Linked DNA regions of Homo sapiens. The protein of the gene in region 2 interacts with the protein of the main gene of each other region in a biochemical or structural test. Each region holds a gene or a part of one and is shown on either strand. Other genes may lie near its edges.

Evidence for each region. The genes of interacting proteins can lie anywhere in the genome.
Region 1: the proteins of SMCHD1 (region 2) and ERBIN interact in a test that uses a peptide from one of them, tested with the Homo sapiens proteins (one large-scale study listed by IntAct).

Annotation. Positions count from the first base shown.
Region 1 is NC_000005.10:66,052,075-66,055,574, reverse strand, and holds part of ERBIN (erbin), read right to left. Parts: intron 2,170-3,500; coding exon 624-2,169; intron 517-623; coding exon of another isoform or gene 409-516; exon of another isoform or gene 1-408. UniProt on the Homo sapiens protein: Acts as an adapter for the receptor ERBB2, in epithelia. By binding the unphosphorylated 'Tyr-1248' of receptor ERBB2, it may contribute to stabilize this unphosphorylated state.
Region 2 is NC_000018.10:2,693,726-2,697,225, reverse strand, and holds part of SMCHD1 (structural maintenance of chromosomes flexible hinge domain-containing protein 1), read right to left. Parts: intron 2,700-3,500; coding exon 2,533-2,699; intron 195-2,532; coding exon 104-194; intron 1-103. UniProt on the Homo sapiens protein: Non-canonical member of the structural maintenance of chromosomes (SMC) protein family that plays a key role in epigenetic silencing by regulating chromatin architecture.

The DNA.
Region 1 (3,500 bases), on a different chromosome or scaffold from region 2:
ACATCTACACATAAAATTATAAATTGAACACGAGCATTAGTTATTTAATCAACTATTGCTAAGCAACACTAGAGCCACAGAAACACTTAACTGAGTTTAAGTAGGTCAGAAATGTAGAAATTCAGAAAAGTTAAGAATAAATGCCATGCCAGAAGCCATCTGTGTCAGTGACAATGTTAGTTCATATACTGTGGACTGGGGAAAAAATATTAGATGAAATATTTACATTTGCAATACATTTTTTGTTATTGTCTTAACTATATAGTAAACTATTTTTTAAATTTAGATAATCAACAATTATTAATAGCAAAGTTCAGAAAATGCTGAACAGAGGTACGTGTATTTTTAGTATGTGTGCACAATCTCAAAGAGACAGACACATAAACATATAAAATTAATACATTTTTGTTAGAAACAGTGGGGAGTGAAGGAGAGGATAGAAACACACATTATCATCCCAATTGTCCTGGCTGAGTTTAAATTTGGAACTCTATTCCCAGTACCAGAGAAAAACACCTAGAATATAAAGAGATAATCAGTAATTCAGAGAATCTTGTTTCATCATTTTTAAGGAAAATAATTAAGTTCATAAAGAAAATAATGAAAAACTCATGTTCAATTACCTTTTCTAACTTTTTGGCTTCAATATGTCGAAGTACTTGTTCTCTCCAGTCACGAGGAACTTTACTTTTTCCTGGAGGATCTAATAAAGAATGCTCAGAACCAACCCTTGCATTTGGTCTTTTTGAAGGACTAGTCCGTGAATAATTGAAATCACTAACTGACATAGTTCTCTCTGGTATTTCATTAATAGAGGGTCGAGCACTCTGAGGTCTTGATGCATTTGGACCATCTATGCTGTATGTTCGTGCAGAAAGGGGTCTCTGTGATCCTGGCATCATTGGAGGAGTTCTTCCCGCTGAGTGGAACTCTCTGTATGATAAATAATCTCCTTCAGGAATCTGAGCCCGCCTTGTAGAGCCTGGATCACCAAGATTTACAGAGGCTGTGGAGGACACACTACTTTGTCGCTGGATTGTACTTCGAGTTACTGCAGGAATAAGTCGGTCGTTTGGTGAGATGGCCCACATTTCCCCATGTCTTGCTGGGCCAAGTCTCTGATGTAAATGGTATGCAGTATTAGCTCGAACATTGTTATGATTAGAGAAATTCATATTGGCAGAATGTTTAGCATAACTTTGATTTTCTGTGCTCTCTGATCTAGGAAGGAGCTGAGGAGGAAAACTGGCATGGTCTATTTGGGGATTTTGTTTGGAGTGCCACAAAGTGTCTTTGACTGCAGCACTGCTACTGTATTGGATATTATACTGTGGAGGACCATATATTTGAGGTGCAGATTGTGGGCCACTTGTGGGGCCTCTTATTATATTTGGCTCTTCGGGATTATGATTTGAATCAAACTTGAAAATTGCCTTTGTTCCTGATATTAAATCAGAAGATGAGGAAGAACCAGTAAATACCTGCAATGGTTGATCATACAACAGTGTGGCAGACTTGCTCCTGACTATATTTTTTCCATCAACAGCAGATGTGATTTTAACGGTTGTACTTGGCTGCTGAGGTCCATTATCACTAAGAATATCATAGATTTTTAGCCCTCCAATCTCCATATTAGTTATGCTATGAGATTTCACAACAGATCCAACTGGACCACTTTTCTGAGGGGAGAGATCTTCAGTGCTTTTGGAAATACCTAAGTCAACAGAACAATCACTGTCATGTGGTTCAGTCCTATTAGGAGACTGGGAAGTTTCCTCAGAATGTCCATTTACCTTATTTACGGATTCCAAATTAGGATACTTGTTTCCATTTTCCAAGTGCTCAGTTTCCTCTTTAGAATTAATGCTTAAAAAGCTTGTTCCAAGCACAATATCCTGTGTTTTTGATCTTTCCATGATCTCTGGTTGAAATGTATCATTAGTTATAAGTTTATTAAGATTCATATTGATATGATCTAATTTGTGAGTGTCATCAGCTGTGGCTGTTGAGTCAACACTTTTCTCAATTAGAACTAATCGCTCTTCAACATTCAAATCATATTCAGGTAAGTTAAAATCTTTTTTATCATGAGCTTTGAACTTTTCCTCTGTTGAACTGTTTAAAATATCTCCATTTTGTAAAAGGCTGTTAAAATTTTCATCTTCTTGCCTAAAATAAAGATAATTTTATGAAAAACATAATAAAGCCGAGTTTTCTTAGTAACAGGGAACATTAATAAATAAATTGTGTAGGTAGACAAGTTAAAAAAGTTAATAAAAGTCAAAGACAAAAGGCATTTATTATCAAGCATGTAATTTTAAAATATTATCTTAATAGTTAAAAGAGCTTTATATTCAGTTGGAGACAAGTAATACAATTAAAATTCATAGATAATACCAAGATTAATTTTCATCAATACACTCAATCTGATTTGTCACAAAATAATTTAAAGGGCTGAACTATGAATAAAATTTTAATGTTTGCTGCATCTTTTCATGAATGTGCTAAAAAAACAAAATGCTTGAGGGAGGGCAGATATATGGAGAGAAACCTAGTAACATGAATAGTGGAGTAAAGAGCAAAGGACATTTTTACAGTTAATTTTGAAGCCTTACATTATTAACCAAATTAACCATAGTTAACGAAGTACACAGTTGTTATTACATTCAAATATATAGGTAAGAAAATTGTACAAAGCAAAGAACTGAATAATTGTCCAAAGTTTAACATCAAATATGTAAAAGGCATAGAAAGATAAATGAAGTCTAATCACTCTTCTAAGTAGCTAGCTGTATTTGGTAAATACTTTTAAATGTGTCATTCCAAAATTATACAAAATATTTTATTTCTACCTGTGATATTAAGTATTTGTGTCCTCTTGTATACATATTCAAGTTATGTTTCCACAAAAATTCCCTAATACTGGTCTTCCCATTACAAAAAAGATAACTTTCATTACTAGAAATACAGCACAAAAAGGTGTTGCTGTATTCCTTGCTTAGGCTTTATTTCATTATATTAAAAGCAGGATTTAGAAAATATCATACCGCTTTCCCAACAATAAATAAAATTTTATTATTCAACAAATTAATACGATAATATCTAGGAGGTTATAAAAATTAGTATTTTAAACAGCAGCTCATAGCTTCAAATTCAAAGAATAGAAATAAATGATTGATTGTGATTATAATTACACAGTACCTAAACTCATTTTCAGGCATAAAATTCACCTCCCTTTTCCAACAACACGCATTAATATATACAAATTTTACTTAAATATGCCTGAAATTTAAGAACAACTCTAAATGACTATTAAAAATATCCACACATTAAACTTTTGGTTTAGTAGTAACCCCGATCTTTTTTTTTTTTTTTTTGAGACCGGGTCTCAATTCTGTTACCCATGCTGGAGTGCAGTAGCCTGATCATGACTCACTGAGGCCTAAACCTCGCAAGCTCAAGTTAACCTCCCACCTTGGCCTCTCGAGTAGCTGGGACTA
Region 2 (3,500 bases):
AGAAGTTGTCTAATTATCAAGTGTTTTTTATTATCCTGAGTCATTTGGAACTGGAACAAATATCTCATAATTTTTATTATTTTAAGATGGATTTTTCTCTTACTTCAATATCAATATTGTTGAAAGGTTCAACTTCTTTTGATGTTCGTATTTCATTTCCTTTTGGGCCATGAATATAGTAGTGATAAATATGCCTAAAATAGAGAAGAATAATTTTATACTTTTAATTCACATAAAATTATAGTTAATGTAATCTTCTATCAAAATATTTTAACACTATTTACTAGGTATCAAGCACTTTATTAAGCATTTTAAAATACATATTCCATTTAATGGTAAAAACAATTGAGATGCAGGTATTACTGCATCTCATTTTACAGATATAGAACCTGGGGTGCAAGAAGTGTATGTAAGTTATCTGACATCACAGAATAGAGTTAGGGAGCCGTGGGCTTCAACCCAGACCTTTCCAACTTCAAAGACCACATACACCACTTCCAAGAGGAATAATTCATCAAATAAATATAAACTAGACAGCAAGAGTCTATAATTCTACTTACCAGGTACGTTCCAGAAAGGACTCAATTATCGGTGGTAAACTGGATTAGGTATCTAATCTCAATAAGAGAATACCATTCCAGAACAGCAGTCCCCAACCTTTTTGGCACCAAAACCAGTTTCATGGAAGACAATTTTTCCAGAGATGGGAGTTGAAGGGGGGTGATTTGGGATGAAAATGTTCCACCTCAGATCGACAAGCACTAGAGTCTCATAAGGAGCACGCAATATCTCACATGCACAGTTCACATTAGGGTTCGTGCTCCTATGAGAAATCTAGTGCTGCCAGTGATCTGACAGGAGGCGGAGCCAGGTGGTAATGCTCACTCGGGCCCACCACTCACTGTGGGGCCGGGTTCCTAAAAGGCCACAGATGGGTACCAGTTCACGACCGGGGCGTTGGGGACCCCTGTTCTAGAACATTCATCTCTCCTCTCCTATAGCACTGAGACAATCTTACCCTAAGATTCCAAAAACAAAACTAGTAAGTTTGACACCATCTCACTGAAAACCAACATTTTGGAAATAACACCTCTTTATTTTTTCAGAAAAGGTTAAAAAAGATTATATTTTGGTAACATTGTTCAGGATTATAAAATACCACGTCTTTATTCGTGAAATAGAAATTTGCAATATTTCTTCATAATCCTTCATTAGAGCAAGAGTATATTTAAATTATGTGTTAATGTACACTGAGTTCCTTCAATAAACTATAAAATAGCTAATAAAATATGTACTTGAAGAAAACTGCAAAGTCCTACTTAAATACCTTGGGTAACAGGGATAATAAACAACTTCAACAAGAAAAAAGGTATTCCTAAAACCAAATTTATTTTCCCATAAAAAAATTTTAAAATTCTCTTAGCGTATAATTACGTATAAAATTGAGACTCTCAAGAACAATAGCCTTTTGGGTAAATGTAAAAAGATACATTTTTAAAATATGAATTTTGAGCAGATGTACCCATTTTGCAAGTCTCAGTAATTCATACTAATGCAAATTAGGGAAACAATACAGTAAATCGTATGTATCACATAGCTATAAAAAAAAAATTTTAGGCCGGGCGCGATGGCTCACGCCTGTAATCCCAGTACTTTGGGAGGCTGAGGTGGGTGGATCACCTGAGGTCAGGAGTTCAAGACCAGCCTGGCCAACACGGCAAAAACCTGTCTCTACTAAAAATACAAAAATTAGTTGAGTGTGGTGGCACGCGCCTGTAATCCCAGCTACTCGGGAGGCTGAGGCAGGAGAATCACTTGAACCCAGGAGGTGGTGGTTGCAGTGAGCCAAGAGTGCGCCATTGCACTCCAGCCTGGGCAACAAGAGTGAAACTCCGTCTCAAAAAAAAAAAAAAAAATTTTTTTTTAGAGCCATTAAATAACTATTCCTCTGATTTGGTCTAATGGAATATAGAGTCCCTACAAGTGTTACTGGAATAAAAACACAATGATTATTTTCAGTACTAATGTCATATAGGCACATATGTACGTATATTTTTTATTTTAATAGGCTTGATGCATTCATTCACTTGATAAACATTTGAGCATCTACCATGTAGCAAGTATTCTTCTAGAAGACATTGGAGATACAGCAGTGAATTTAACAACAAAAATAAATATATATGGTATGGAAGATTACGACAGGTCCTATGGAAAAGAAGCACAAAACGGGGTCATGGAAGTGATATAGTGCTCAATCTGACAAACTGTGAAGTTCTTTTTTAATTTTATAATATTGTCAAAATCCTGTGCCTCAAATAATGCTCAGTACACTAGAGGTGATCTATAAATATTTACAGAATAAATGAATAGAGAGCTGTTTTAACACCAATATCAGAGTACTGGATAATACTAAAGGGAAGAAAATGAGACAGGAGCAAAACGGATACCAAAGAGGCTTCAATATATCTGTAATGTTTTCTGCCTTAAAAAAGTTAAGTAGCAACATTTCCTAAGCCAAATATAATTACTTACGCTAACTGTCGTGTCCAAAGGTGGAAATAATTTTTCAAGTACTGTATGTGTTCTGGTTGTACCCCTGTGATAACCACAGCAGTAAAGCTATCTTTTTCCTTCTCCTCTATGATAAGATGATGTAGAAATCTTTCATCATCATTTGTAATGTGAACAGAATCAGAGGGCTACAAGAGTGAACAGAAATACAACAGATTAAATCATCTAAATTATAATTATACAAATAGCTATTGCATCAAATTTTAATGTGATTTACTTGGAGTTTCACAAATAGGTTTCAGAAAAGCTTTGGAGGAAACTGGCCCAATACAACAAACTGGCTGAGTATGTGACAACACTGTGAAGACAAGGGAACTTTCACACAGACTGCTAAACTAGCATGCATAAAGAGCACCCTATCTTATAATGCTAAACCGATTTTAGAATCATAAACGAAAAGGTAAAGACAAATACTGAGTTTTAAAATGCCTTAAAAAATTGAGGACACTTACCCCTAGGGTAGAATGAACGCTTGCTTGGGAGACCTACCACTTAACTTGGTCAGGACCAATGCCCAGCCCTCCATGTTCAAGAAAACTACAGGGCAGGCTGGACCCAGCTAGCTAAGCCCAAACACATAGTGCTTAAAAGTAAAATCATCCTGGACACCAACCCACTTTCAGAGAATATCTAAAACTTATGGAAGGGAGTTAGTAGGGGAATTTGAGGATAAAATTACAAACTTCTCCATCTGTAGTATGAATCTATGTTTTAAAAAATTGCAGGCCGGGCGTGGTAGCTCACTCCCGTAATCCCAGCACTTTGGGAGGTTGAGGCGGGCAGATCACCTGAGGTCAGGAGTTTAAGATCAGCCTGGCCAACAAGCCGAAACCCCATCTCTACTTAAAATACAAAAGTAGCCAGGCGTGGTGGTACACGCCTATAAACCCAGCTACTAGGGAGGCTGAGGCAGGAGAATCGCTTGAGCC